4 separate regions of the Homo sapiens genome follow, and regions 2, 3 and 4 are each reported to be linked to region 1. The links are microRNA targets in miRTarBase. Many come from high-throughput screens and were not tested one by one. Region 1 holds a microRNA gene; each other region holds the end of a gene's coding sequence. Distances are from middle to middle.
Evidence for each region. Region 1 holds the annotated microRNA hsa-miR-6733-5p (UGGGAAAGACAAACUCAGAGUU, at 2,139-2,160, opposite strand). A microRNA usually pairs through its seed, bases 2 to 8, with sites in the 3' UTR of a target mRNA and lowers its output. Matches are read on the target gene's strand: a 7mer-m8 pairs with bases 2 to 8, a 7mer-A1 pairs with bases 2 to 7 and ends in A, and an 8mer does both.

Region 1 (7,866 bases):
CCAGGGTACTATTTAAATATACTTATCCCTCAGTATCCATAGAGGATTAGTTCTAGGACCCACTACAGATATCAAAATCCACAGATGCTCAAGTCCTTTATATAAAAATGGTGCAGCATTTGCATATAACCTACACTCGCCTCCAGTATCCTTTAAAGTCAGAGGACCTCAACTCCCAGGCCACAGACCGCTACGAACCCACTATGAATCTGTGGCCTGTTAGGAACCAGGCCGCACAGCAGAAAGTGAGTGACAGGCAAGCAAGCATTACCACCTGAGCTCCACCTCCTGTCAGATTGGTGGTGGCGTTAAATTCTCATAGGAGTGCGAACTCTACTGTGAACTATGCATGGAACTATGCATGCAAAGGATCTAGGTTGCCTGCTCCTTATGAGAATCTAATGCCTGATGATCTGAGATGGAACGGTTTCATCCCAAAACTATCCCCTCCCCAAGTTCATGAAAAAATTGTCATCCACGAAACTAGTCTCTAGTGCCAGACCGCTTCTTTAAATAGTCTCTAGATTACTTATAATACCGAATACAATGCTATGCATCACCTCATTCTCATGGATTCAATGTAGTTCTCGGCACACGGAAAATTCAGTTTTCCTTTTGCAATATTTTCAAATTTTTTTCCCCAATATTTTTGATCCAAGGTTGGTTGAATCCACAGATGCTGAACCCATGGCTATGGAGGGCTGAATGTATGTTGGATTACATGCTGGCAATCCCTTCTTCCAAAGTTAAATGAGGTCCAAGTTCTACCCAACTCTAAATTGTACTATATCTGAACCATCTAAGAATCCCTCATTTTACAGAGGAGAAAACTGAGGCCCAGAGAAAAGTAATTGTCTACAAGTTCTAGCACTGACAGTGGCAAGGGCACAAGAATGCTGTCCTCTCTGCACACCATGTCATGACCATGCCAGCTAGGAAATGCACTGGGCCATCTTCACCTCGGGGACCACACTTCACACAGCACTGTTCCTCTCCTTAATTGCTGATTTTAGAAAAAATGTCATTTTTATATGCATCTAATTGGTGGTAACTGGCATGACTCTGAAGTAGCCAATCTATGGAAGAGGTAATAATTGTCCTCTGACAACTGGCTCCCCGTTATTGGGCTCATAGCTATCTTTCTAAGCCAGCTGAATATGCTTAAGTACAAAGTTTTGACTTTCCAGAGGAAAACTTCTATTTCTTACCTTCTGCATCTGCAGATCAGATTTGGCCATTTCCGCAAAATAATCAGTGGGTCGCTTCGTAGGGACTTTGAGCTGATGGAGGCGGGGTAAGACTGCAAGCACTGCGGCCTGGGCTTGGCGATAGCTGAGAATCGTAGGACAAAATGTGTAATGAGGTGAAGGAGGAGGCCTTACGTTCCTTTTCACCGCCAATCATGAGTTATCCAAGCTCAGAAGGACTCTCAAAATCTGACCTCCATTAGCAAGAACAAACAAACAAAAACTGTCTCACTGATTTAGTATCTAAAAGAAATGTAGCCGTATACTAGTTTTTAAAAAGGGGAGGGGTGTTGCTAAAAATAGTTTAAGAGAATGACTACTCTAAAGGTACCCATTAACACAAACGAATGTCGATTATGGATTCTTATGTAATTACTAAAGCAATTCCACACAAGAACATCCCATAAGCAATGTTTGTTTGTTTGTTTTCCTAATAACTGAAGCATGCACAAAAAGTTTTAACATGAATATTTCAAATTAGCCCATAAAGTGGATTTTGGATCGTGACCGTGGACCAAAGAGCTCTTCTCTCAAACAGGAAGAATCTCCTAGCTATTCTTAGTCAAAAGAAGCCGCTCTCTCTACTCCTAGGCTTATTCTGAGTGCAGACTTACTAATTTCCCCTCTTTCCCACTCTCCTGCACAAGGATCCTCAACTTCTCCAACATTTGAAAACAAACATACAAACTCATCTCTCGCTGGAAGTCGTCTTCTGGATCAACAGCTTTCTGGTCCTTGTTCTGAGGTGCTGGCGCCTCAGATCCACCGATCTCCGGTACCGGACCCAGTGTCACATCGAGCCTTTCAACCCATTCCAGATCCCGCTTGAATTCTGCCAAACATTGCTTCAGGCCATTCTAGGAAATCCAGACACTGAGCTCACAAGAAGGGAACTCTGAGTTTGTCTTTCCCAAGCACAGGCTGTTAGGCGAAGGGACAAAGTGCTAATCCCCAATACCCAGACAGGTAATTGACCCTCTTGGCGAGGCGCAGGGTGCATCTTTCCTGGGACAAGAATCGGTCTCCCAAGCCCAACAGCGCCTGAAGCGCATCCCATGTCCGAGTACCCCCGACCCTGTGCCCACGCTCACCACGTCGTTCACGGCCTTCTTCGGCCCCTCTAGCACGACATTGAGGCCTGGCTTCAGAAGCCCTCGGGAAAACGCATCCTGCAACTGCAGGACACAATCACGGTCACTCCCAGGGGTGTAAGGCCCCCTCTCCCACGCCCAGCCCCACGAGCTCGGCTGACACCTACCTCTCTGTCTGTGACAAGGGATTCATCGGATTCCGACTCCGAATCCGAGAGCGGGGGAGTGTCCATCTCGCCGCACGCACGTCCCACACCTACAGGAAGAAACGGGGTATCCCGAGACCCAAGCGGCTAGCAGAGGGCGGCCCTGGCCGCTGCTGCCTGCCTTCAGCCCCCTACTCCCACGCCGTGGCTCCACGTGCCACCGAATCGCTCCAGCGCCAGCAACTCACAGCTACTGCTCAACTTTTGATTGGGACTTCCGCTTCCGGCGGCAAACCATACTTCCGGTTTGTCGTTGCTATAGGAACCGCTACGGCGTTTGAAAGTGTCCGGGTTGCTTAGGATCCCTACAGGTAGCGCCTCTGGATACATGCGTGGTCTGCTGACCCAGAGAGAAACGAAAGGTGGGAGGGGGTACCTGGGGGTCGCCAGAAGGAGCTGGTAGCAGTGAGGGTACAAAGGAAAAGGCAGAAAAAGGAGCCGCGGGGGTGGGGTGGCGCGGAGGAGGACCCCGGGGGAGGGGAAAGGGGAGGGACAAGGGGAGGGGAAAGGGGAGGGACAAGGGGAGGAGAAAGGGGAGAGACAAGGGGAGGAGCAAAGGGCGGGGAGGGCGAGTCCGGGCCGGGGGCGGGGTCGGAGCGGGGCGGTGCTCTCCACTCTGAAGCGCTGCCTTGGTCTTCAGCAGAACTGTTTGGCGGGAGATCATGTCAGCCGTGGTAGCTCAGACGCTGCATGTTTTTGGTCTTCGATCCCACGTGGCCAACAATATCTTCTACTTCGATGAACAGATCATTATATTTCCTTCAGGAAATCACTGTGTGAAGTACAATGTGGATCAGAAATGGCAAAAATTCATTCCAGGTAAAACTTTTTCCATCCTGACATATACAGGAATGGTATGTGCCACATATAACCCCATAATCCCAGCATGATGATTGGAAAGAAAGATTTTGGCCAATTTGAATATATATGCAGTATTATAAATGTAGAGGAAATAAATGGCGACTTGTATTATGAAACTAGATTAATCAGTCACGCATATGTAGTTAAAATCACATATAAAATGTTAATTTAAAAGTACTTTTTTCACTGTAATTTCATGAAAATATGTTAAGAACCCCTCTTTTGGTGTCTTCAATATCACTGCCTTTGTCATCACCAGAGCCACTTTTTGAGTTGTCTAACAGTTTTCCTGAGCACACCACCTTCATTATATCACCGTTTGAATCCAAGTATGATGAAGACACTGTAAACTTTATCCCAAGTCGCAAATAACCATTTGTATAGCATTACAGCCCTTATTTTTGTTCACAGTGGTCCTGTTAATGATATTCATTATTTCAACAACCGAATCCATTTTCCCATTCTTTGTTGCATTGACACCTTTTATTGTGACATATACATACAAAAGAATGTACCCTACATATATGTCATATTTAAAGAATTACAATAGAATGTAGATCTGTGAACCCAGCCACCCAGCATAGGAAACAGAATATTACCAGTTCTAGTGCTTCTCCCTGTATTCTGTGTCTTGCTGCATCAGTTCAATGTCATGCTTTTGAGATTCACACATCTCGATACATATAGCCAAGTTCATTTTATTGCTATGTAGTGTTCCATCATATGAATATAATGTCTCAAATATATGTATTCACTCTAATATTGAGGGACATTTGGGAAATAACAATCATTTGCTATTACAAACTATACTACTATAAACATTCTTGCATGCATATACATTCATCTATTTGTGCAGATTCTCTAGGGCACACAGCCAGGACTAAAATTACTGAGCAATATGATAGTACCAATTTACACTCCCACTAGAAGTGCATAAGAGTTCTTATTCCTCAGCAACCCTGCCAACCCTTGGTATTGTCCAACTTCGTAATTTTTTGCTAACCCAATGGTTGAGAAAAGGAATTGTGGTTTTCGTTTGCATTTTGCTATCATTAATGATGATGAGTATCTGTTTATGGGCTATTCCTATTTAGTCGTATGTTAAATGCCTTGTTCAAGTCTTTTACTTGTTTTTTACAGTTTGTTGTGCAGGATATTTTTGGGCAATTTTATTGATTTACATGCACAATTTATATATTCTGTATATCAATAATTTGTCAGATATATATATATGTCTTGCAAATAATTTCTTTCAGTTTGGGGCATTTTTCTCCCATCTTACAAGTATCTTTTGATGGACAAAAATTATTAGTTTTAATAAAGTCAAATTTATCAACCACATAATATTCTGTTGGAATAAGCTGTATTAAATACAGTTGACTTTAATTTATTGATGTTTATTTCCAGCATATTTGCTAAATTATTATTAATTCTAATGATTTGTCTATAGATTATGCAGAGACTTCTACATAGACTATCATGTTATCTACAAATAACGATGACTTTCTTCCTTTTTCTTGTGTTACCTGTGCTGGTAAGCACCTCCAGACAGTGTTGATTAGGGGCAATAAAAATGGACATCTGGCCAGGTGTGGTGGCTCATGCCTGTAATTCCAGCACTTTGGGAGGCCAAGGTGGGCAGATCACGAGGTCAAGAGATCAAGACCATCCTCGCCAACATAGTGAAACCCCGTCTCTACTAAAAATACAAAAATCAGCTGGGCGTGGTGGCACGTGCCTGTAGTCCCAGCTACTCGGGAGGCTGAAGCAGGAGAATTGCTTGAACCCGGGAGGCAGAGGTTGTGGTGAGCCAAGATCGCACCACTGCACTCCAGCCTGGGAAACCAAGCCAGACCCTGTCTCAAAAACAAAAATAAAAAAGATCATATGACTTTCCAATATAAATTAAATTATGGTTTTCTACAGACAACATTAATTTATATTTGCTCTCATACTTACCAAACTTTTTCCCACCATTACTCTTTACAAATCAGATATTCCAGCTGGGATCATTTTCCTTCTGCATTTACTGATAATGTATTAATAAATTCTCCCAGTTTTTGTCTGAAAATGACTTTATTTTATCCTCATTTCTGAAAGATAGTTTCAACAGGTGTGAAATTTTTATCAGCATATTATAGATCATATTCCATTGTGTTTTTTTGGCTTCTCTTTTGTTGCTGTGGTTAAGAAATTAGCTATCAGCATCGTCTTTCTGTAGATGATCTTTTTTTCTGGATGTTTAATATCTTCTCTGTCTATGGTGTGTGTGTGTATGTATCTATACACATACACCATATACATATATACGTATAAAATACACACCATATATACACACACCATATACTATATGTACATGTATATATACATAGTATATATACATACATATAGATACAGACACACACATCAGTATAGTTTTTATTTTCATTTTTTATCCTCCTAGGGATTATTTGAGATTCCTGGATCTAAGGACAGGTATCTTTTTTGTTCTGTTATCTCCTTCTGGAACTCCAAACCATCTCAACTCCATCCTTCCAGTTTTTTATTTTATTTTATTTTATTTATTTATTTTTTAAGAAACCAGGTCTCACTCTGTTGCCCAGGCTGGAGTGCACTGGCACAATCATAGCTCACAGCAGTCTCAAACTCCTGGGCTCAAGCCATCCTCCCCACCTTAACCTCCTGAATAGCTGGGAATACAGGCATGCACCACCTTGACCAGCTAATTGTTTTTATGGAGATGGGGTCTGGCTATGTTGCTGAGGCTGGTCTTGAACTCCTGAACTCAACTCATCCTCCCACCTCAGCCTCCCAAGTAGCTGGGATTACAGGTGCAAGCCACCACACCTGACGTTCATGTTTTTGGGTTTTTTTTTTTTTGAACTCTTATTTGGATTTTTTATACCTTACTCTCTCTGTGTTGCATTCTAGATAATTACTTTAGATGTATCTCGTAGTTCATTGCTTCTCTTTTCTGCTGCATCTAACTTAATGTTTAATGTATCCATTGAGATTTTACTTTCAGTTATTGTGCTCATATTCTTACACTTCTTACTGTATCACTTCTCTTCTGCTCCTAACTCCATCTTATATCACCAGGGGCCTTGTACACATGTGGGTGGATCCTTGCAGCCCATATGTTCAAATTCTACCCATATATTCTATAAGCAACCACCCTGTGCCCATCCTTCAGGCCCAGGTTGAGTAGAGACAGCCTGGGAAGAAACCCCCAATGTTGGTCTTGTCAGCAGGCTCAAGACTATCTGAGCAGGGAACTCCAGAGTCCTGGGTACCTGCAACGTGATCTAGAAGAGGCAGGACAAACTCCAGGCAGCCACTGTATCCCACTTAATGGTAAGGGGTACAGCCAGAGAAAGACTCCGGGATGCTCTAAAATTTGAGGCCCAAGGGAGGATCTCCACTGACCAAGTCTAAGGGTATTACCGGTGAAGGGAAAAATATAAAGGTCATGACATTGGGAGACCTGGCTTTGATCTGGCTCCCCATTTTATAGGCTCACAGAGCCTCAGTCTCCTCATCTGTAAGATGCAGATGATGCTCAGCTTGTTCAGCTCAGAGTCATGATGAGGCTCAACATATTCATTTGTTCACTCAACAAAAATGTATTAAGTACCCCCTGTGTTCCAGGCACAAAATAGACACGCACATATGCACATAAAATGCTGTCCTCACAGTGCTTCCATTCTAAGAGGGGAGAGTGACAAACAAAATAAAAAGAAGTACAGTCTACATGCTAGATAGTGATAGATGCTAATAAGAACAAACAAAGCATGGAAAGTGAAGCCGTTGGGGGAGTAAGAAGTTGTAGATAGGGAGGCTGGGGAGGGCTCACTGAGCAGTGATTTTTGAGTGAAGACTGAAGGAAAGGAAGGAGCTGGCTGTGCTGATGTGGGAGGGCAGGGGGAGTAGCCGAGAGACTAGCAAAGGCTCAGAGTTAGGAGGGTGCTTATTGTGTTGGAGGAATAGCTGGGAGGCCAGTGTGGCTGGAGTGGTAAGAACCGGGGGGTGAGGAGCAAGAGGGGAGGCAAAGAAAGAATGGGGAGCAACACCACAGAGGGGCTTGCAGTTCATGAGCTCTTACTCAGAGTCAAATGAGAAGCCATAAAGGGGTGCGTTCTGAGTGGCAACATGATCTGTGTTTCCTCAGGTTCATTCTGGCTGCTGTACAGAGGACAGATTTAAGGAGGAGAAAGAAAGGAAGCAGGGAGAACAGCTGAGGGATGATTGCTGTAATTCAGGTGAGAGATAATGGCACTTGGAGCAGGTAGAGGCAGGCGACAGGGTGGTGTGAAGAGATCAATAATGGATATGCTTTGACAGATTTCTTCATAGACACCATGTGGGGTGGAAGCAGGAAGAAGCAAGGTTTTGGGCCTGAGCATGGAAAGCATGGAGTTGCTGTTGATTGTGATAGAAAGGGCTAAAGAAGGAGCAGGTTGG
Region 2 (7,866 bases), not on the chromosome of region 1:
AGGGAGGACAACACTCACTTGCCAGCACCCCCTGGGTGCCAGCCCACCAGTGAGCACTCCACTTATGGAGGCAGGAACCCCTTCCTGGAGGGTTCCTAGGATGTGTACTACCTTGCTTTGCCCATCTGCAGTCTTGCTGGGTAGGGGTGTCCTCCCTGGGCAGAGAAGTAGCAAGCTGTTCTTCAAACAAGGACTTATACCTGGCCAGGCACAGTGGTTCACGCCTGTAATCCCAGGACTTTGGGAGGCTGAGGCAGGTGGATCACTTGAGGCCAGGAGTTCGAGACCAGTCTGGGCAACATGGTGAAACCCCATCCTTACTAAAAATACAAAAATAAGCTGGGCGTCATGGCAGGCACCTGTAATCCCAGCTACTTGGGAGGCTGAGGCAGGAGAATTACTTGAACCCAGGAGGTGGAGGTTGCACTGAGCAAAAATGGCACGACTGCACTCCAGCCTGGGCGACAGAGCGAGACTCCATCTCAAAAAAAAAAAAAAAAAGCACTTACACCTAAGAGGTCAGTCTTAAGCAGATGGTAAAATGAACAAAGGAACTCTCCTTGTATTAGGAAAGAATCATTGGCCCACAATGACAGATTCTGGCACACTGGTGGCTTCCTCACTACCTAAAATCAGCTCCGAGACCTCTTGCTTGGCATTCAAGACCTCAAACTACCTCCCACTATTCCCTGAAAAGCTCCAAATCTGTACCATTCACTTCACCTCAAACTTAACTTATATTGTTAATTAACTATTTCACACAAGTATGTTTTTTTTTTTTTTTTTTTGAGATGGAGTTTCGCTCTTGTTGTCCAGGCTGGAGCGCAATGGTGCGATCTCAGCTCACCACAACCTCCACTTCCCGAGTTAAAGCGATTCTCCTGCCTCAGGCTCCCAAGTAGCTGGGATTACAGTCGCATGCCACCACACCTGGCTAATTTTTTAATATTTTTAGTAGAGACGGGGTTTCTCCATGTTGGTCAGGCTGGTCTCGAACTCCTAACCTCAGGTAATCCACCCGCCTCAGCCTCCCAAAGTGCTGGGATTACAGGCATGAGCCACCATGCTCGGCCATGTTTTGTCTTTCTGACTGTAAGTTCTGGAGGGCAGAGGCCTCATCTTCTATGTCTTTGACATTATCCTGAGCCTCTGACACAGTGCTGGGCAGAAAGTGGGCAACTCGATACATTATACTGTGTGTTAAATTCCAAGGCCAAGCATATACCCCCATGTCTATCATATCAACAAAAAAGATCTCTCAGAGTGCTTGCTTTCTTTTAAATGCCATGTTTTGGCCGGGCACAGTGACTTACACCTGTAATCCCAGCACTTTGGGAAACCAAGCCAGTACGATCACTTGAGCCCAGCCTGGGCAACATAGTTAGACTCTATAGGATCACTTGAGCCCAGCCTGGGCAACACAGTCAGACCCTATCTCTCTCTCTCTATATATATATATATATACATACATATAGTTTTTTTCTTTTTTTTTTTTTTTTTTTTTGATACAGGGTCTCGCTCTGTTGCCCAGGCTGGAGTGCAGTGGTGTGATCTCAGCTCACTACAGCCTCCACTTCCTGGGCTCAAGCCATCCTCCCACCTCAGCCTCCCACATAGCTGGGACCACAGGCACACAGCACCACACCCAGCCAAGTTTTGTATTTTTTGTAGAGATGGTGTTTTGCCATGTTACCCAGACTGGTCTCAAACTCCTGAGCTCAAGTGATCTGCCTAGCTTGGCCTCCCAAAATGCTGGGATTACAGGCGTGAGCCACCTCGCCCAGCCCATCTCTGTTATTTAAAAAATAAAAATAAAAAAATAGCTGGGCACAGTGGCTCATGCCTATAGTCCCAGGCCAGGGTGGCTGGCCTGTTATCCCAGCACTTTGGGAGCTCAAGGCAGGCGGATCACCTGAGGTCAGGAGATTTGAGACCAGCCTGGCCAACATGGTGAAACCTCGTCTCTACTAAAAATACAAAAATGAGCCGGGCGTGGTGGTAGGCACCTGTAATCCCAGCTACTCAGGAGGCTGAGGCAGGAGAATCACTTGAACCTGGGAGGCAGAGGCTGCGTGAGACAAGATCGCGCCACTGCACTCCAGCCTGGGCGGCAGAGTGAGACTGTGTCTCAAAAAAAAGCCATGTTTTAGCAACAGGGTATCTGACAAAACTTGTCTCTGCTTTCTCGGGATCTGATTTTAGCCTGTTTGTGGGACTTTCCAAAGTATTCCAAACATCAGGAACACACCCTGACAGAGAGAGGGGAGGACTCCTCAGAACAGAGTGTGGACCCAGCAGCACTGTCCAGCTGCCCTTGGCCCTGTGGTTTCTCTTTGGCCCAGGGCCCTATCCTCAATGACTGTGTGACAACCTCTCAGTCTCTGTGTGGAGAAAAGTGCTTGTGGTTTAGGATCTTGAGGTGCAATTTCCTGAAGACTGAGGAAGAAGAAGAGGGAACAAAGTGCAGCAAGAAAGAGCAGTAGCATTTTTGGGATCAATTTTTATTTGGGCTTCTCACAGTGGTTAGAGCCACTCTGTCTTCAGAACAATCACAGCACAGGAAATGCGTCACTGAGACTGCCCAGAAAAGTCTGACCAGCTGAATCTTATTGCTTAAAATACACATATTCACAATAACTGACAAAGGGTAACGTGCCTCACACAGGAATGTGTTCGCATTTGCAAATCTTCTGACTGGCTGTAGCACCAAACCCTCCACCGACCCCGTCTCATTCACGTGGAAAGCCAGCCTCAGTCACATCTCCCTGGCCCCCTAACGATTCCTTCAGCTCCCTATTAAATCTCTCTCTGAGCAGGGCAGCATCCTGTAGCGGGGGCCAAACTGTGACCTGGGAACCAAGCCCAGCTCCGCAGGTTGCATTTCCGTCTTCTCGTGCCTTTAGGATAGGACGCTGCAGTGAGTCCCACAGTTAACACTTGCCCAGTTCCCCACTCTAACTGGGGAAAGGAACTTGAGAGGCTCAGAACTCATCCATTTGATCTGTTAACTGAAAAAGGATTCATTTTGGTAAAACTTGTTCGCCTTTGAGACACTTCAGTGAGTTATTTGGGATTCTTAAAAAATAAAAAAAGGTGGAAGGAAAGGCATCTGAGGGGCTGTGACACACTCCGGCTACCTCTGGCCACACGCCAGCTTGCTTGTGCCTGTTGGACTCACCAGAGGCAGGCAGGCCCTGCGGCTCCTCTAGAGCCTGCAAAGCCTCCTCCTGGCAATTCTGGGCAGGGCCGATGTCTGGGCCACAGCTAGTCCAAGCCTGTCATTGAAGACCCAGTCAAGCTTCTGTCTGAAATTCCACCTTCTTCTGTCCCAAGTGGTTGTGGACACCCCCGGGCGCTGGTACTGAGGACCAGCAGCAGCCGAGGGAGGCAGACAGGCTCAGAGCACGCTTCCATTTATAGGGAACAGAACGCAGGCCTCCGAGTGTCCACGGAGCAATGTGCAAATCGCAGTGATGAGTAGAGTAAAACCTCTACTTCGAGCACAGTATCTCTGGCAAACACAGGGGACTGCAGTCGACAATGCTGCGGAGTACACCCGAGTACACAGTCAGACATTTGTTCGGTAAACAGTAAATGCGTAAGATCAATGACCTTGAGAGGCCTGTCTGTGCTCCAGACGTGTGGTTCACGTGGAGAGAATGGCTGCCACTCAAAGTATCTTCACAGGAAAACAGGGCTTGAGGCACACACACAACAGACAGACACACACGGCTCACCCAAAAAGTCACTGTGTACGGACTTAACTTTGTTCAACATGGATTTTGGTTTTGTGGAATCTAAATGCAGACACTCGTTTACCTCACACCCTTGGATTTGTCTGTTTTTGGACATATATATATATATTTTGTTTGTTTCTTTCTTTCTTCCATAACATCAATGCTTCGTCTGAATATCATCATCGTTCAAGAGTTGGGGGAAGAAAGACTTCATATGCACAGGGCCGGGTGGGGAATGTTTGTTTTGGCTGTTTGCTGCCTCCATTCAGATTTTCCTATCGCAGCTCAGCTGGTGACCTGAAGGCGAGCAACAGGCACAAGGGTCCCCAGGGCCTTCCGGATGGCTGCTTTCACCTCCTGCCTGGGCCACCGAGTCTCTACACAGAAAAATGAGTCACCCGACTCAAAAGGGGTGGGGGTAGAGGCAGGGACAAGGCATGAAAACCACAGATAACCAAGGTGTTTCTTCCAAGTGGTCAGTTTAAAACAAACAACTGCCACCAAAAAAAAAAAAAAAACCCCACAAAAAATATTTATTCAGAATCAAAGATAAAATACTGTGTGAGAGCCAGGCTACAGGGGCCCTTTCTCTGGGGCCATCGCTTCCTCAGTCCGCTGTCTGTTTCCTCATACGGAACAGTGAGACTTGAAGGCCCGCAGGGTGTGTGCTTGCGATGCAGGCTGACACGGGTCACCTGTGAACACAGACCAAAGGGCAGAGAGGCAGAGAGCTGCACCTCTATCCACTGCTGCGGCTTAGGGCCTCCTGCTCACAGAGGTTCCAAGACAGCCGCCACCCCAGCCTTCACACGAGACATCTTCTGGCTCAACAGCAGGCAGGCTCTTTGAAGGCCAACTTGGGAAAGAGCCACAAACGTCATTTTCCAGAAGAGAATTCTTGCCTGCCCACCGGTGAAGTTCTTGTTTTCAGCTGTCTTTTGCTGTTTGTTTTTAGAGAAAAAAACAAACAAACAAAGAAAAGGCAGTATAACCTTTCACACCAGAACCAGCCTGCGGCCAGCCAGAGCCTGCGGGGAAGAGGCCCCTCAAGGACGCATGGGGTGCATAGATCTTGTCACCTGGAATTTGACAGATCAACAAGCCCCTACCAACCTATCATACAACGGCCCAGTAGCTCTCATCCTCCCACAGGATTAGCTCAATGCTGGCTTGGCAGACACTGGCAGCCCAATGACAAGCCCTGGGCCTCTGTGGGTTTCCTTCTTCATCCAGGGCCAAGATGGGCTGCCTCTCCTGGACTGAGATACAGCAACGTTCTCTTAAACTAGAATCAGAGCACAAACCTATTCCATCACCAAGAATCATGTCAGGGCACAGTCCCAGCCTCCTTCCTTGGGGGCTTTTAAAACACATCTCTCTGACCCAAACAGGTAGGTGAGATTTGACTTTAAAGAAAGGAGATGGAGTTAGGGTATGAGGAATGAGTCACAGAACCAACTTAGCCCTCCACAACACTGTGCCCTTGTGGAGGAAGAGGCATCCACACCCCGAACTGTACCTGGAGATGGAGGAAAATGCAGGAGAGGAGAAGGAAAACAAACAAAAAGGAACCAAGTGGCTGTACTCTGAAAGTCTTTGAAAGTCACTTAATGCTTCTCTCGTGGTTCTCCCCTACCCTGGTTGCTTTGCCAAGTTGCTGGGTGCTGGCAGGACCTGCTCTAGCTGGGGGAGCTGCTGCTCTGGGAGTTGGGAGAGTCCTGCTCGTTGATGGTGTTCAGCAGCAGGCATGCGGGCGGCCGTGGCAGGTGCGGGTGCCCAGGCTCTCGAGCCTGCTCCTCAGAGGACTGACAGAGGCCTTCCTCCTCATCACCAGGGGGCCGCACATGGCAGCTGTCGCAGAAGTCCAGGGGCCCATCCAGAGCATCATCGATGAGTGTGTTGAACTCTTTGAGGTCATCGTCATGGTGGCCCCGGTTGCACACACACACTTCAATGCCCGAGTCACCTGTGAAGCGGCGATGTCTCCCAGGCGTCTTCTCTTTGCTGTCGGGTGCGCCGTGTTCAGAGCTGTCATCTTTCAGCAGCTCCTCCCTACATTCTGCATCTTTGTCCAGGAAGGCCCCCGGGTCCAGCTCCCCCAGGCCAGCCACAGAGCCACTGGGCTCCATCCCTGGGGCTTTGGTGGCTGCTCGGTCAACTGGTAGGTCAGAGGGATCAGGGTCAGCGATGCTTGGGGGTCTTGTGCTGCTTCTGCTGGGCTCAGACAAGGGGCTGCTCTGTGCCCCCTGGGATCCCCTGGTGGGATCGATGCCCGGGGGACTGCCACCTGCAGGGCCACACTGTGGAGGCAGCAGCTGCTGCTGCTGTAGCTGGAAGGCACTGTATGGTGGGGGAGGAGTTGGAGGTCGGTTCACCACTTCCTCATAAGGAGGTAGTAAATAGTTTGGCAAAAACCCTAAAATGGGGAGGTAGGAAGGAGAAATTACTGCACTGGTCATTGTTCTAGGCAGACTGCAAAGCTCCCACTGAATATTTGCATTGTCTCTTCCCACCCCAGAGCACCCAACAAGTGATGGCTACAGCTCTTGGTTGTGAGCAGAGGAGAGACAGCTGCGAGCAATTCTGCAGAGAGAGAGGGGCAGTTTGGGAAGGGCCTAACCTAGCTTCTTGAAATCTGAGAGCCCCTAAAGCTGCTTCGTAGGCAAGGACTTCACGCCTGTTGGGAGTTAAGGCAGAGAATTAGGCAAACGTGGTAGATGGCCAAAAAATAACTTCTGCCTGGAATGGACCCACTTCCACATGCACACAAGTCTCATGTTCTTGCTTAGAGTGTGTCCTTCATCCAAGTCCCACAGGCCTCAGGGCCAGGGTCCCTAACTTCAGACTTCTTAACTACTTTTCTTCCTCCTAACCTTCCAAATGCACTATGTAGGGTCTTTTGCTAGGGGGTTAGAAATCTCTGTTGTCTCTACTGTGGCTGGAGGTGGTCTGGAAACACAAACCAAGCTTCACCTTGACTCAGATCAGGAGCAGATGGGTGACCGGCAAAGGGTAAGGGGCCTCTGCCATCCAAGGCTTATTAAAAACATGCTAGGTGAGTTATCTTTTGAATGTGCTGAATGCCTTATGACACAGATAATTTAATTATAATATAACATTACTAACATTTATTGAGCACTTACTATATGCCAGGCACTGTGCTAAGCACTTAACCCCTCTAGATGTGGAACTGAAATAATGGTGGGTCACAGTGGCTTACGCCTGTAATCTCAGCACTGTGGGAAGCCGAGGCGGGCAGATCACTTGAGCTCAGGAGTTTGAGAACAGCCTGACCAACATGGTAAAACCCCATCTCTACTAAAAATACAAACATTAGCTAGGTGTGATGGCATGGTCTTGTAGTCCCAGCTACTTGGGAAGCTCAGGCACAAGAATCACTTGAACCCCAGAGGAGGAGGTTGCAGTGAGCCAAGATCACGCCACTGCAGTCAAGCCTGGGTGACAGAGCGAGATTCTGTCTTAAAAAGAAAAAAAGAAACAATTGTAAAGAAACAATTGTGAAAGTTTATTTTGTAGAATACACTGTAGACTGGCTTTGGAAAACTGGCACAGCTGGGCCTCCACTGACCATATGAGAGGTCACATGTAAGGAGCCCCAGGGAAGTCCGGGAAGTGCTCTTCAGAGAGTCACTAAGTTTCTTGGTGCTCAGAAGTCCCAATGCCACCCCCCAACCCGCCCCTTTCATGGCAGCCTCTGCTCAGGCATATCACACAGAAATAAGCAAAATGGGAGGAATTCAGGCCAATGAACCCCAAGTCTCAATTCACTCACGTTATAACTGACTCCTGACCTCAAATGATCTGCCCGCCTCGGCCTCCCAAAGTGCTGAGCCACCGAGCCCGGTGTGAGCCACTGAGCCCGGCCCACAATTGTTTCAATTCCACATCTAGAAGGACTAGGTGCTTAGCACAGTACCTGGCATATAGTAAGTGCTCAATAAATGTTAATAATTATTGTTCTATTATCTGACTATCTGCCATTAAAGAGAGAGAGAGAGATGGATGAATGAAGGGAGGGAGGGAAGAAGGAAGGGAAAGAAAGGAAGGGTAAGAAAGAGAAAGGAAAAGAAAGAGGAAGGGGAGGGGAGGGGAGGGAAAGGAAAAGAGG
Region 3 (7,866 bases), 66 Mb from region 1:
AATTCAAACCAAAGGTTATCAAAGGAAGAATTACAATACTGAAGTGTCTGTAAATAATCTGGCCCACACTAGCTGCTTAATTTGGTATAATTTCCATAATACCTACAATCTGTAACATTCATTTTGACTTAATAAGAATAGCTAATCTTCATGGAGCTAGTACTATGTGCCAAGCTGTGTTCTGCTTTACATTATTACCATATTTAATCCTCACAGCAATCCTAGGAGTAGCTCTATTTTCTCCATTTTAAAGATAAGAAAACTGAGGCCAAGAGAAATTAACTTTCCCAAGGCTATAACTAGTAAATGGGAATTAGGATTTAAAGCAGTCTGACTTCAGGACCCATGCTATTAATCACCATGTTAAACTACACCCCCATAAGAAAGAAAATATATCATGTGTCAGGAGACACAGGGTAAGTAGATAGATCTCAACTTAAACTAAGTTCCATAGTGATAAAGTAAAAATGACTTGCATCTACAGCAAAGGAGACATTATCCAGGAAAAAGAAAACTGTATACTGTTTTGGGTACATTTTGCTTATAGAAATAGCATAGAAGATAATTTTAATTTCCTATGTGTGTTATGATATGGCTCAAGCAAGAACATATGTTTCTGCAACCTATTTGAATTTGTGGATTTAACTTGCTCAAGAATATTTTAAAAATCTTACTTAAAAAAGAATGAAGTTGGTAAAAATTAAAAGCAAATATGTTTAGTACTTTGATTTTTACTTACTGCTTTTCAAGTTCCCTAAGTCAAGTGTCTAATTTTGTTTTTAATTAAATGCACTACAGATAAAATCCTGAACAAAAATTCTTCTAGACATCTGGACAAGTTCCGCCTATCCAAATTCTGCCTGCCTAATCCTGCATTTTGGAAGAAAGTCTCAAAGTTTCCAACTACATTACAATAAACTGATGTCCTAAGGGTATCTCTGTTGGTCAGTGTAAATCAAATCACTCACAGAAGATGAGAATACATCTTTACTTTCATAACCAATCGATCAATAAAGAAAATGCTGGCCAGGCACGGTGGCCTCACGCCTATAATCCCAGCACTTTGGGAGGCCAAGGCGGGTGGATCACAAGGTCAGGAGATTGAGACCATCCTGGCTAACACGGTGAAACCCCGTCTCTACTAAAAATACAAAAAATTAGCCAGGCGTGGTGGCGGGCGCCTGTAGTCCCAGCTACTTGGGAGGCTGAGGCAGGAGAATGGCGTGAACCCGAGAGGTGGAGGTTGCAGTGAGACGAGATCGCGCCACTGCACTCCAGCCTAGGCAACAGAGGGAGACTCCGTCTCAAAAAAAAAAAAAAGTTAACGCCCTGAATGTTATAGTTTATATCAAATTTCTCAAAGGCCCCAAGGACCAGTGTTCAACATTTGCTGGCTCAGGCTGGTTAACAGTAAATATTTAAGGAGCACCTACTAGGTACCAGGGACCATGCATATCCACCTGTTATACAGACAGTCGCAGTCTAGAACTACAATTTGAACTCGCATCTTCTGAAAGTTCAGGTATACAAACCGGAACCTTAAGCTCCAATACATAACTTTCCCTTTATAGTATATTCAAAAAAGCTATTACCAGAGCTTCTGCAATCTACAACCAACCAAATATGTTCACACGAAGAGACTAACAGGGGCACTTAGAATGTACAAAATAAGTCTTGGGTTACAGTGTACATTCTGTTCTCTGGAGCTTTATACCATGAAAATTTAGCATTTCCCCTAAAGTGACTCCTTTTCCTCAAAAATCAATTGTTTTAAAAAGTAAATTTCTATTGCTTGTAAGGGTTTCTGTAGAAACCCCTACTCCTACTTATTCTTCTCTAATGGAAATACTACCCTAGAAAATATTGGAAAATAATGGAAATACTACCCTAGAAAATCTTCACTAATAATGAAGAAATGTGGCTTGATTTATTAGTAAGCTAATGCCAGTATTCTTTGTATGATTTACTGAGCCTCTCAAAAATTTTGAAACTCATGTTGAGTAAAATACATCCGACTGTGTTTAAAAAAAGCCAATTAAAACGACTATCAAATAACATAAACAGTAATTCCTGAAGTCAATGGTTTTGCTTTGAAGAGGCCAAAAAGGATAAAACAGCCACCAGAAGTCTACCATAGTCTTTACAGTGAATATGTCCAACTCTGTAACTTATCCTAAGGTAACTATTCCAACTACACATCATCTATAGCAACTATTCAGCATCCTCCAATGTGTAATCTCTTGTTCACTAGATCTTCTGCTACAAACCTCAAAGAAATCATTCTTTAAATTTCTTCAGCTCACACCATTTCCCATCCTTTTGTAAAAACAGAAGAAGACGTTATAAAACTTTGAAAATAAAAATGATAGGAAACGGTGGAAAAGTAGAGATGGCCTCTGCACCCAAGCTCTTTTCCTTTATACCTGATAACTTGTCATTTATCTCACCTACCTATCTTCATGTTCCTGGATAATCCAGGGTTCTTCCAACAGTTCAAATGGCTCTCTTACTAACAAATGTCAACGTCCTTATGTGACCATTCTGTTCCAGTCTCTGTACCATCCATTCAAGCCTGCTAGCTTTATCCTGCCAAAGAACCACGACGCTCCAAACTCACAAACCATTATACAAGCCCAACATATACTCTATGCCGTTCTCGTTACCAACACGCTCCAACCCAACGTAAAACCTTCCTAGTATCAACTCTTCCTTTATGAGCTTTTCCCATATTCCTACTCCCTCAACATCTACCGGCCCATACTCCCAAGTCTCTCTGCTAAACGCAATTCTAGCCCGGAGTCACACCCTCTACAGCCTAATTCCCGCAACCCCAAAACCCCACCCCCCTCATCACGCCCTCTGGGGCCTCAGCTAGGAACCCCAACACCCCGCCCCACGCCCGGCACGCCCTCCAGATCCCTTTAGGGTCCTTTCCGTCGGCCCGACCAGACCCCGTTCAGGCCTTCCAAGCGCCTAGGCTCTCCCGACCACCACTCAGTCCCCGCCTCCAGCCCCTCACCGAGTAGCAGCAGCTTCACTTCTTTGGCCGCTTTTTCCCCGTCCTCCCGTAAGTTGCGGTCGATCATCTTGCTTCGCTCCACTGCCGCCTTGTCTTCGGCGCTCAACGTGCAGCCCATGGCGGCGGCGGGAGAGGGGACACGGGCCCGGACTCACTCACACCACGGAAACTGCGGCTCGGCAGGCTGAGGCACCGTCTATTGCTGGGCGGTGGCCCTCTCCGTCAGCTCCCTTAGCGCCCAGAAGAACCGGATATCCGACGTTTACGACACTTCCGGCGACGCCCCGCAGCCTTCACCGTTTAAACCACTCTCCTCAGGGAGAGGAGTTGAGACCGAAAGCGGAAGTCACGGGGAGCTGGCGGCTGGGTTGGGCGGCGGATCTGCAGAGTTTCGAGGTTCTGTCAAGTTCGCTGCCCGCCGCCCAACTTGAAGCCTCATTTACCTTTCGGCTACCTGATTTGGATAAATGGAGAAAAACCGGGGCCTCTAACTCATAATGCCCTCCCGCGTTCAAGATGCCAGTTTTGGGGCGGAGATTTCTAAATTAAAGCCTACATCCCGCGCGGGAATATCTGCTGGTAATTTCTCGCCTGCCAGAAAACTCCTTTGATCTCTGGCTGTGGAGACTCGGGACCCCTACCCAAGTATGGGACACTGCCTCCGTTGGGGTTATCTCAGATCAATGGAATGGGAACAAGCTATCCGGCCTGGGCGCCGTTCACGTCTCACATCTGAGATCGTAACACCGACTGTGCTTAGGACCTCAGCAATAACTTTTTGCCGTCTCTGGCCCACTGACTCCTCTCAAAATGTCCCCTGGTCCTTTTGCTATTCACGTATTTCTGTGGGCTTGAGATTTGCTTAACTCCTATATTGGCAAAAGGCCACTTGAAATCGCTAGCAGATACTCGATAACCTGAAAGGTAAGCCTGTAGTTCCTCCATAAAATTTCCATGCTGCCCTTCTCTCCAGTATAATTCAGATCTTCCTACCTTAGGGTCTTAGAACTAAAACCAAGATAAGTCAACTTCAATTCCACACCCCGAAACAAACCAGTGCATCCTGTGAATCTCCTACTAAAATTTCCTGTTGCGATAACATGCAAAAGGAGAGGTTCTAGTAAAATTTGCCTCTCAGCCCTAGTATCACCTGAAACTTAAGTCCACTGTGAAAGTCCCAGGCAGATAGCATCTTTCACTAATAACCCTGGATACTGCGTGAAGGTAGTCCTAAATCAACTTTTCAGGCAAATAAGCCCACAATTACTATACGTTCTAGCGAAGGGAACTCAGTCCCTAAAACCTTTCCCTGTGATTGTAAATTTATTTCTCTAATAGAATCTGAACTTGAGAAAGTAAGGTCCCAACAGAGAGGTTTATATAGTGATGATTCATTAATTAGAAGGATTTAATTAGAGGATTAGAGCCACCTTAAAAAGCCTCGTCCACCTTAACTCTTAGCAATGCCAATTCTTCAAGGTTTGAAAAGTCCCCCAGTCATTCCCAAATGACTGTTAAGAATGAAAGGGACTGCTTTTCCATTATCAATACTTTTGGGGAAAAAGGGCAAGAGGAAAGGGAAGTAAAACCAGTATTTATTGAGTACCTATTTGCCAGATACGGCTAGGTGCTCCCACATCCCATCTCTTAATCCTCACAACAACCCTGTGAGGTAGGTAATAATGATCCCCATTTTTACAGGTGAGGAAGTAGGCTCAGAGAAATTAAGCAGCTTTCCCAACTTCACACAGTGAGTAAGTACATCTATCTGACCCCAGAGTTACCCTTTTCTATCATGCCCCCGTAGGATATTGCCTGGGGACACCTGACAACAGAAAGTCTAAGGTTTTCATCTAGGATTGGGAGTTACCCCAACACCAGCAGGATGCAGGAAAAAGTAACTGACCGGATGGTTGCCTCAATCTGTTGATTCTTCAGTGAGTTAGCTCAGATTTTGTCCAGGAACAGCTTTCAGAGCCAAAGATTACGTATTGAACTTTACCAAGGCATCTGGTGACTAGAAAACTCCTGGAAGGTGGTCATAGCAGAAATTGTTGGGAAAGTTCTCAGCATAATAAAAGAGAAATTTTTATTTCCTTCATGATCCACTCCTACAGGGAAAAATAAATGGCAAATGAACCCATGTATGTCAAACTCTGTAATAAACACCAGTGAGATCACAGTGTCAGGAAATTTCAGCCTGAATTAAAGATACCCTTGCTCTTAAAACTTTCTTCTTTGATGTATGTGAAGGAAGGGCTGGAGGGCAAAGTCAAAGGAAAAGGCAAAATAAATTAACAAAATGGCTGCCAGGCAATGTTTAATGCCCTCCCCTTCCTCCTCCCACCACGTACACTCGCCTTTCCTCCTTCCATTGGGCTCACACTGCCACCTGCTGGCAATTCCTTGGATCTAATAGCTGATCAGTGGTGTTTGAAAGAAGAGTTTTTTCCCTGTCTAGGAATGATTGATTCCTCTGTATGCATTTATTTTAATAGGGAGGAGAGGTGAACATGTTTTTCAATCACAAAGGACTCTCCTCCCTATATATACTATGTTTTTAGGGAACTTCCACAATGTAATAGGCACTAGACTGGTATAATAATCTAGTGGTAGGAAGACAACCTAGAAATTTTCCTAGAACAAAGGGGGAAAGCTGTTTGCCCAGTTTCATTTAATTTTTTTTCTTCATTAGAGAGTTTCATTTACAACCCCTATGCTTTCCACAATCTGCAGGAAGCTTCAAGGTATGCATCTTGCTGCCACGGGCTGAACTCTCAGAAGTTAGAGCCATGGACATATTCTCCAATATATTTCTCAAGCACATTCTGTAGTGCTTTATCAAATCAAAGTGCTTTGTGAAAATATAAGGTATCTCATCAACTTAGACTATGAACTCCTTAAAAGCAATGACCACACGCCCTGTGTGGGTCCCAGGGACTAGTGGGTGTTCAACTATTATGCACTGAATTGAACTAAAGGAGTCAATGTTGTTATCAGTATAACCTTTTATCATAAAAATTATTTATTAGCTGCTTAAATGGGAGACTATCCCACTCCCACCAGCCCATTTCCCCTTTTGATGCTCAGTGAGCCAGGAATTTGTTCAAATAGAGACCACACCACCCTCTGGCCCTGCCTTGATCCGTTAGTGTTACCTGATTCAATTGAGGGAAGTAGGATGGACAGGTGGTCCCAGATGGGTGTCCTGTCCAGTTTGCAGTTATTCCCTGTTTGTTGAAAATACCACCACCAATACCAACCAACACAGTTCCTACAGTCTCAATCAATGAACAGCCAAGACCAACTCCCGTGCCCTCTCTCCAACCCAGTGCTGCAGATAGGAGAGAGATTTAAGTCTTTGTCACTGAAGCTAATTTTGAGAGCGATGAATGGGAGTAGGAAGGCATTTAATGGATCATGGAAACCCCACCCTTCCCATGCCCAACCTTAAGTCTCTTGTACCCGATTGTCCAGGGGACTGGAGGTGGGTCGCTGCCATGAGGAGAGAGATCAGGGAGGCCAGTCCTGGAAAGAAAAGATTCGCAGTATTATTGATCAGGCTGATTACCTGGCCTCTCTGTTTCCAGCTACTTTACCAATTCAAATGCTAACCTCCACCCTCGCCCGTCTGACCCCCAGTCATTCTAATTCTTCCTCCTAAAAGAGAGGAAAGCCATCCTGCCTTATTCTTGTCTCTGCTAAGATCAGGCTCTACCCTTGATCTCCTGTGTGCAGGAGAGAGACAGAAAAATAGAACAGAAGGGCTTTTCCTGAAGGGTGGGAGAGAGAGAGCTGCAGTCAGCTTTCCTATCTTCTACTCCATGTACCCTAATTTCTATTTTGCCTTGTTTCTGGCCAAACTCAGTAAAGGAATACACCCTACTGGTCCTCTCATTTTAAGGAAATCTCAGGTATAAAACCAGAAAAATGATCTATTAACTCAAGTGGAAACACTTGGCTATAATTTAGTTCTTTTTAAACCTAGCAAGGAAATGAGAAAACATGGGTCATTTTCTTACCTTGCTTGGGTGCAATTACTGCCCTGGACAATTACACTGAAAAATAAAATATCCTAAATGGCCCCTAGAATAACTCCAAACCTGGCCTGCTGCCCTGTATCCTCCAACTCCTACCCTTAGAGAATTCCCTGCTTCTGGAAGCATGGAAATTTCACCAATTGAGAGGTTTCACCTCACCTTTGTGACCCTTTTCTCTCGTCACCGTCTCACCATACCCAGGTTCCCTCCCCTAGCAGTCAAAGATCACAGCCAAGTCCAAGGCTTTTGCACACGTTCATCCTGTTGGCTCTGTTCCTGACCCAGGAAACACTAAGCAAAAGCTGTGTGCAGAGACCCCAGCCTCAGCCCTAGCCAGCTGGGAAAAGGTGATCCCACAAGGTGGTCCTTGCAATCATAACTGGCCCCAGCCCCATATCCCTCCGAGTGTCCAGCGGCCCATCATGACTCCAGCCGGGGTGAGGCGGCAGGACGGAGGTAGCTGTCTGACATGATGATGTCGCTGGTGAGTTGCTGCTCCAGGAACTCAGAGGTCTCCTCAGCTATCTGGCCTGGGATTCGAAAGTCAACAGCAGGTGGCTCCTGCTTGGGGCTGGGTAGGGGTCGGGAAACCCAGGACTCAGAAGGACAGCCAGTCCCCTGAAGGAACTGCAGGAAGTTCTCCTCAATGGAGCCCTCCCGGCTAGGCAGCCTCAGCTCCTCCTCTGGAGCTGGCTTGAAGAAGCAGACAAACTGCTTGCTGAGCTCCCCCCGGATCTGCCGGTTGAGACATCCATAGAAGAAAGGGTTGGAAGTGAAGCAAAAGTAGCCAATCCAGGTGACCACACT
Region 4 (7,866 bases), not on the chromosome of region 1:
CTCTGTCACCCAGGCTAGAGTGCAGTGGCACGTCTTTGGCTCACTGCATCCTCCACCTCCCGGGTTCAAGTGATTCTTCTACCTCAGCCTCCTGAGTGGCTGGGACTACAGGTCCCTGGGACTACCCGCCACCAGGCCCGGGTAATTTTTGTATTTTTAGTAAAGGCAGGGTTTCACCATGTTGATCAGGTTGGTCTCGAACTCTTGACCTCAAATGATCCACCCACTTCAGCCTCCCAAAGTGCTGGGATTACACACGTGAGCCACCGCACCCAGTCGTGTTTTTTTGTTTTTTTTGAGACACAGTCTCACCCTGTCATGCAGGCTGTAATGTGGTGGCATGGTCACGGCTTACTGCAGCCTCAAACTTCTTGGCTCAGCCTCCCAGGTAGCTGGGACCACAGGAGTGTGCCGTGTCCAGCTAGTTTTTAAAATTATTTGTAGAGACAAGGTTTCCCTGTGTTGCCTGGGCTGGTCTCAAACACCTAGGCTTATGCAATCCCAGAGTGCTGGGATTACAGGCGTGAGCCACCATGGCCAGCCAGGACATGGCCTTTTTAAGGACCGAAAGAATCTACCGTGACCCCAAACAGAGAGTGATAGGACGAGCGTTTCCCTAGATCATGGCCCTGTAGGTGTGACAGAGAGCTTGTGCCACAACCCTCTGGGAGTCCAGGAATCCGTTGTCCGGGCTAGGTTCTCAGCCCTGACGTTGTGCCCTTCCTCCCGCACCCCTAGGTCGTCCACACTGGTGAGAAACCCTACTGCTGCCTGGTCTGCGAGCTCCGCTTCTCCTCACGCTCCAGCCTGGGCCGCCACCTCAAGCGCCAGCACCGTGGGGTTCTCCCCTCTCCCCTGCAGCCCGGCCCTGGCCTGCCCGCCTTGAGTGCGCCCTGCTCCGTCTGCTGCAATGTGGGGCCCTGCTCGGTGTGCGGGGGCTCAGGGGCCGGCGGCGGAGAGGGCCCCGAGGGGGCAGGCGCGGGTCTGGGCAGCTGGGGGCTGGCAGAGGCGGCAGCTGCGGCCGCGGCCTCCTTGCCCCCATTTGCGTGCGGCGCCTGCGCGCGGCGCTTCGACCACGGCCGCGAGCTGGCGGCCCACTGGGCGGCGCACACCGACGTGAAGCCCTTCAAGTGCCCGCGCTGCGAGCGCGACTTCAACGCGCCCGCGCTGCTGGAGCGGCACAAGCTGACGCACGACCTGCAGGGCCCGGGCGCGCCCCCAGCGCAGGCCTGGGCCGCGGGGCCAGGCGCAGGGCCCGAGACGGCGGGCGAAGGCACCGCTGCGGAGGCGGGCGACGCTCCTCTGGCTTCGGACCGCAGGCTGCTCCTGGGCCCCGCGGGGGGCGGCGTGCCCAAGCTCGGGGGGCTGCTCCCCGAGGGCGGTGGGGAGGCGCCTGCACCTGCGGCGGCCGCCGAGCCCTCGGAAGACACCCTGTACCAGTGCGACTGCGGGACCTTCTTTGCGTCGGCCGCGGCCCTGGCCAGTCACCTGGAGGCCCACTCGGGCCCGGCCACCTACGGCTGCGGCCACTGCGGGGCTCTGTACGCGGCGCTGGCCGCCTTGGAGGAGCACCGGCGGGTCAGCCACGGTGAGGGCGGCGGGGAGGAGGCGGCGACCGCCGCCCGGGAAAGGGAACCGGCGTCCGGGGAACCCCCGTCTGGCTCCGGCCGCGGCAAGAAGATCTTCGGCTGCTCCGAGTGCGAGAAGCTGTTCCGCTCACCGCGAGACCTGGAGCGGCACGTGCTGGTGCACACTGGCGAGAAGCCGTTCCCGTGCCTGGAGTGCGGCAAGTTCTTCCGCCACGAGTGCTACCTCAAGCGCCACCGGCTGCTGCACGGCACCGAGCGGCCCTTCCCTTGCCACATCTGCGGCAAGGGCTTCATCACGCTCAGCAACCTCTCCAGGCACCTGAAGCTGCACCGGGGCATGGACTGACTGCCAGGCTGCGTGCGCCCTGCCCTCCACCCAGCCTCCTGGACTCGGCCTGGACCAGGGGACCTCGGGACTGCGCGTGAGGCCCCGGCCCTCCAAATCCAAATCCAGACGCAGGCCCTGAAATGAGGGGACCCTGACTGGAGAGGTGGGGGCCACCAAAAACCCACAAAGGCCCCGGAGCTGGGGGACCACAAACAAACAGGGTCCTTAGCTGGGGCAGGGGAGCCCAAATCTAGGGAGAGACTCCTGAGCCTGAGGTCCCTGGAATGAGTGTGGGTAGCCGTAAGTCCCCAAGACATGGGGACTTTGCAGTGAGCAATGGGTCTCCACAAGTACCTCTCATCTTGAGAGCCCTAATACTAAAAGATGGGCACCCACCCCCACCAAGGGAAGACTGCCCCATTCCCTGAGAGCCATCATTCCTAACGACCTTGATCTGGAGAATGTGGAGGGAGCATGTCCCTGAATTTTCCTAGATCCCTCCAAATGCCACCCACCAGAGTCACTGGTGACCCCAGAAAATGGATATAGCCGAAATCTGCCTTTCCCCTTTTTCATTCCCTGTGCTGAAAGAGGGACCAGGGTAGATGCCCCCTGCCCTCGAATCCCCCCTCCCCGACTGTGGAATGGATCGACCCTAACGATCTTCCCCGCCCCAAACACTAGAATAGACTGGCCTGAAATCCCCTTGCCCAGTAGAATGGACTGATCTATGTGCACACACCCCCATCACATGGAATGGGCTGGTCTAGGCTGTGGCCTGCCACCTTCCTTAGAGTGAATAGGGCGGACACTCCTCTCTTTTCCTGTAGCGTGTGGACCGGTCCACGCAATTCTTTATCCTGTGAACTCATCTGAGTGGGAGGTGGTGGACACTGGGGTTTCCTTCCCTCTCTCCGTAGCATCCGTTGGTCTTTCTCTCCATCTCTGTTGGTTTGTCTGTCTCTGTCTTCCTCCCAATCCCTAGGGGAAGGGGGCATTTGGCTAGGGGGTGCCCCTGTGAGCCTCGACCTTGCCCCCTCGTCCCTCTCCCCAGTGTTTCCAGGACCCCCAATAAACCTTGTCCTGTCAGTCGCTGATGCCTCATTTTCTGATCCTTGGCTCCAGGCGGGGGGGATGGGGAATCTCTTAGGACAGACTCCCTAAATAGAGACGGGTCCTCGTTTTCTCCTGAGAAGTTTCAAAGCTTTGAATAGTACATGCCCTTTTAAATTAGAGTCGGTTTAGGCTGGGCTTGGTGGCTCACGCTTGTAATCCCAGCACTTGGGGAGGCCGAGGCAGATAACCTGAGGTCAGGAGTTCAAGACCGTGCCTGGCCAACATGGGGAAACCCTGTTTCTACTAAAAATACAAAAATTAGCCGGGTGTGATGGCACATGCCTGTAATCCCAGCTACTCGGGAGGCTGAGGCAGGAGGATCTCTTGAACCTGGGAGGTGGAGGTTGCAGTGAGCCGATATTGCACCACTGCACTCCAGCCTGAGCAACAGAGCGAGACTCTGTTTCATAAATAAATACAATTAGAGTCAGTATCAATCAAAATGAGTTCCGTCCCTTAAATACATGATCCACCTCCAACAGACGGACACGCCCCCTAGAAACTAGACACGCCCTTTAGAAGTCACCAATCTTATAGGACACACCCCTTGGAAACCAAACTGCCTCATTAGAGGCGTGTCTGAGCAGAGGCCCCGCCTCTTAGATGCTGCCTTGGACCCTATACCAGACCCCCAGAATAGGACCCGCTCATCAGAGAATTGGGGGTGGGGGTGCCTTCAGACTGTCTCCTGCACACTGCATTGTGTTCCCGTACTGAAGGCTTATTCTGAGCCAGGCGTTGGAACTCCCTGTGGGGATCATCCCGGCCCTCCTGGGGTTTATGTTCTGTCGTGTAGGCGACGGGTATGGAGAAAAGAGGAATCAAGTAAATGTAGAAAATAATTTCAGATCGTCCTGAGCATTCTGAAGGCAATAGGGAAGGGTGGTAAGAAAATGAATGGCCACCTTACTCACTTTTTATGCCACCTTAGATGGGGTGGTCCATGTGGGCTTCTCGGCGGAGGTGGCGTTTGATCTGAGCCCTGAAGGGTAAGGGTGAGCAAGGACCTGCCAGGAGGATGCCCAAATGGACACAGGAGGAAAGTGAGCTCAGGGAGGGAAGGATGAGATGAGGTTAACAGGTGGGTAGACGTCACATCACAGTAAGCCAGGCAAGCCAAAACAGGTGTTTGACTGTGTTCTCTGGGTGATGGGAAGCAAAGTGTTAATCGAGGAGGGAAGGGACCACCCTTGCATCTTACCAAGATCCCTGTGGCTGCTGAGTGTAAACGAAGCTGCAGGACGCAGAGTCAGGAGAGTGCAGCGCTCCTGCAGTCCAGGAGAAACTTGTGGGAGCCTAAACCAGAGTGACCAACAGAAATCACGCCTGTAACCCCAGCACTTTGGGAGGTCGAGGCGGGAGAATCACTTGAGCTCAGGAGTTTGAGACCAGCCTAGGCAACATAGTGGGACCCTGTCTGTACTAAACATAATAAAATAAAACAAAACAAAGAAATGGGTGGGTTGGAGATGAACTCTGGAGTACGAATGCAGAGGACTGGTTGTGTGCATGTGTGTATTGGTTGGGGGTGAGTGTAATGGGAAGGGAGAAATCAGGAATAAATGGTTGAGTGGTGGCATTTCTTACTAAGACCAGAAAACTGAGGGAGGACACATTTAAGTAGGAGTTTAGGAGAATCAAAGTTTCCTCCCCTTTAGTTCCTTAAGATTTTTTTGTTTGTTTTTGAGATAGGGGCTCACTCTGTTGCCCAGACTGGAGTGCAATAGTGTGATCTCGGCTCACAGCAAACTCCACCTCCTGGGTTCAAGTGATTCTCATGCCTTAGCCTCCCAAGTAGCTGGGATTACAGATGTGCACCACTACACCTAGCTAATTTTTGTATTTTTAGTAGAGACGGGCTTTCACCATGTTGGTCAGATTGGTCTCGAACTCCTGACCTCAGGTGATCGATCTGCCCGCCTCGGCCTCCCAAAGTGCTGGGATTACAGGTGTGAGCCACTGCACCCTGCTGAGTTTCTTAAATTAAATGCCCCACAGGTTGCCATTCTCAAATATTGAACATACATATATCCTGTGATGCAGGAATTCTACTGCTAGGCGTAAATGCTAACTCAAGTCCCCCTGCACCCAGAGACATACAAAAACATTCATAGCAGCAATACTTTCAACCCCAAACTCAGGACAACCAAAACGCCCATCAGCAATACAGTGGATAATTAGCGATGGCATATTATGCAGTGGAATACTATACGGCAACAAGAATGAATGAGCTGCAGATAAACACAGTATCATGAATGAAAGTTACAAAGATACAGGACCCAAAAAGCCAGAAACAGAGCATGATTTCATTTACATAACATTGAGGCCAGGTGCAGTGGCTCACGCCTATAGTCCCAGCACTTTGGAAGGCCAAGGCAGGAGGATTGCTTGAGTCCAGGAGTTCGAGATCAGCCTGGGCAACATGGCAAGACCCCGTCTCGAGTAAAAATACAAAAAATAGCCAGGTGTGGTGGCGTGTGCCTGTAGGCCCAGCTACTCGGGGGGCTGAGACAGGAGGATCGCTGGAGCCTGGGGTAGGGGGACGGAGGTTGCAGTGAGCTAAGATCATTCCACTGCATTCCAGCCTGGCCAACAGAGGGAGACCCTGTCTCCAAAAAAAAAAAAAAAAAAAAAGCAAACCCATTATAATGCACATAAAACTAAACTGTAATATTGTTAAGGATACATTGTCAGTAGTAAACCATATAAAAAAGCAAGGACAACAATGTCCTATAAAACTCAGAATAGTGGACTGGACAAGTTAAGCGGGAGGGGATATCCTGGAAGTTTCCACGGTTGCTGATAGCCGACAAAGTTCTAGTTCTTAATCGGACGATCATTTTATAATTATTTATTCAATTGTGTGTTTGTATTGTGCATTTTTTCTCTGTGTGTCTTATATTTCACAAAGAAGATATTTTAGGCTGGGCGAGTTGACTCATGTCTGTAATCCCAGCAATTTCAGAGGCTGAGGCAGGAGGATGGCTTGAGCTCAGGAGTTCGAGACCAGCCTAGGCAACATAGTGAGATCCTGTCTCTACCAAAAACAAAACAAACAAACAAACAAAAAACCGGCATGGTGGTGCACGCCTGTAGTCCCAGTTACTTGGGAGGCTGAGCTGAGAGGATCACTTGAGCTCAGGAGGTCGAGGTTGCAGTGAGCTATGATCGCACCACTGCACTCCAGCCTGGGCGACAGAGTGCGACCCCGTCTCAAAAATAAAAAATAATTCCGAACGTGTTGGCTCACGCCTGTAATCCCAGCACTTTTGGAGGCTGAGGCAGGCGGATCACTTGAGTTCAGGACCACCCTGGGCAATATGGTGAAATGCCGTCTCTACTAAAAATACGAAAATTAGCTGGGCATGGTGGTGCACGCCTGTAATCCCAGCTACTCGAGAGACTGAGGCGGGAGAATCGCTTGAACCTAGAAGGCAGAGGTTGCAGTGACCCAAGAACATGCCACTGCACTCCAGCCCGGGTGACAGAGCGAGACGTCCGTCTGAAAAAATAAATTAATTAATTAAAATTTAAAATATAAATTAAAAAAGAAAGAAAAAGAAAGGAAAATTTAAAGGAGGAAGACATATTCTGGGAGGAGAAAACAAGTAAGAGTTTAGCACTCAAGGGAGACTTTTTGAATGGAGATCCACTGTTGCCTGTTTGAAAAAGCTCAACCTTTGGGAATAAAATCAGCTAAATCTTAGAGATATTCCTCTCCACTCTGCAACCGCCACTCAAAAACCAGACATGCTTTCTGGTTTGAGAAAAAAAGTATCTTCTTTCGAGAAACAAGGCCCGCCCACTTCGAAGCAGGCACCGCCCCCAGGGACAAGACCCGCCCACTCCGAGACCGGCTTAGAGACAGGCTGAGCCCCGGAGCTGCGCACTGGAAAGGCGCCAGCGTTGCCATGGAGATGGCCGCCGGCCAGGGAGTAATGAATAGGGACCTCGCGAGGCTGAGGTTCCCACCCACCTCACCTGCACCACAGTCCTTTCTCTTCTGGGGCGGTAACGAGAAGGACCCATCCCATTTCCTCCGTGTCTCACAAGCGCCCGGTGCTGGACTGGACACTGCACCCAACGCGTCACATAGCGGCCCCATTTTATAGATACGCTGATTGAGGTTGGAGGGGGGGTGGGAAGCGAGGAGAGGACAGGAGCGGGAATTTTACCCTGAGGACGATCTCAACCGTTGCAAAACATTAATTACTAGCCAGACGCCGGCGACTCACACGCCTGTGTTTGGCGAGCTGATTCCTGCGTGCAGACCTTGGAGCCAGCCAGCGTCCTGCACGCTTGCCTGAGCGGGAGTCTCCCCCGGGCCCCCGAGCCTTCTTCCTTTCAGGAACAGCCTCACTCCTCCCACCCTTCATCCCTTTTTATTCATCCACAAATGCTTGTTAAGCCCCTTGTCTGTCCCGGGCAGCCACCTGTGGGCAGAGCCGTTAAACAGGCAAAACAAGCCCCTTCCCTTGTGGAGTTTTTATTCTAGTGGCAGGGGAGATAGGGAATCCATGGGACATTCACACATTGCCTAGTGTGTGTTCGTGATAAGTACCATGTTGAAAATTAAAGGCCGGCGCCGTGGCTCACGTCTGTAATCCCAGCACTTAGGGAGGCCGAGACGGGAGGATCACCTGAGGTCAGGAGTTCGAGACCAGCCTGACCAACATGGCGAAACCCCGTCTCTACTAAAAATACAAAAAAGAATTAGCTGTGCGTGGTAGCAGGCGCCTGTAATCCCAGCTACTCGGGAGGCTGAGGCAGGAGAATCGCTTGAACCCAAGAGGCGGAGGTTGCAGTGAGCTGGGATTGCATCACTGCACGCCA

Region 2: miRTarBase lists WBP1L as a target of hsa-miR-6733-5p. Seed matches in the 3' UTR shown: 8mer at 4,596-4,603 and 7mer-m8 at 2,962-2,968.
Region 3: the mRNA of GPR61 is a reported target of hsa-miR-6733-5p. Seed matches in the 3' UTR shown: 7mer-A1 at 7,398-7,404, 7mer-m8 at 5,669-5,675 and 8mer at 5,075-5,082.
Region 4: the mRNA of FIZ1 is a reported target of hsa-miR-6733-5p. Seed matches in the 3' UTR shown: 7mer-m8 at 2,478-2,484.

What each region holds. Positions count from the first base shown.
Region 1 is chr1:43,169,548-43,177,413 of GRCh38, forward strand. MIR6733 (microRNA 6733) reads right to left here and starts at 2,165; the gene lies at 2,105-2,165. EBNA1BP2 (EBNA1 binding protein 2) reads right to left here and starts at 2,743. Exons shown (of 9, transcript NM_006824.3): 1 at 2,506-2,743; 2 at 2,339-2,422; 3 at 1,932-2,104; 4 at 1,209-1,332. The coding sequence starts at 2,571. It overlaps CFAP57 (cilia and flagella associated protein 57), which reads left to right and starts at 2,783. Exons shown (of 23, transcript NM_001378189.1): 1 at 2,783-2,906; 2 at 3,188-3,363. The coding sequence starts at 3,207. RefSeq lists enhancers at 1,818-2,454, 2,280-2,509, 2,455-3,090, 2,640-2,769, 2,850-2,899 and a silencer at 3,010-3,209.
Region 2 is chr10:102,810,882-102,818,747 of GRCh38, reverse strand. It overlaps WBP1L (WW domain binding protein 1 like), which reads right to left. Exons shown (of 4, transcript NM_001083913.2): 4 at 2,486-6,153. The coding sequence ends at 5,417. Among named protein-coding and RNA genes, the nearest start is that of CYP17A1-AS1, 18 kb to the left of the region's middle. RefSeq lists an enhancer at 2,795-3,328.
Region 3 is chr1:109,543,992-109,551,857 of GRCh38, reverse strand. GPR61 (G protein-coupled receptor 61) reads right to left here. Exons shown (of 2, transcript NM_001393907.1): 2 at 4,598-7,866. The coding sequence ends at 7,480. GNAI3 (G protein subunit alpha i3) reads right to left here and starts at 3,243. Exons shown (of 9, transcript NM_006496.4): 1 at 3,020-3,243. The coding sequence starts at 3,137. RefSeq lists enhancers at 2,957-3,126, 3,657-3,716, 7,629-7,866 and a silencer at 5,231-5,467.
Region 4 is chr19:55,586,519-55,594,384 of GRCh38, reverse strand. FIZ1 (FLT3 interacting zinc finger 1) reads left to right here. Exons shown (of 3, transcript NM_032836.3): 3 at 739-3,009. The coding sequence ends at 1,935. Among named protein-coding and RNA genes, the nearest start is that of FIZ1, 9.1 kb to the left of the region's middle. RefSeq lists a silencer at 6,974-7,023.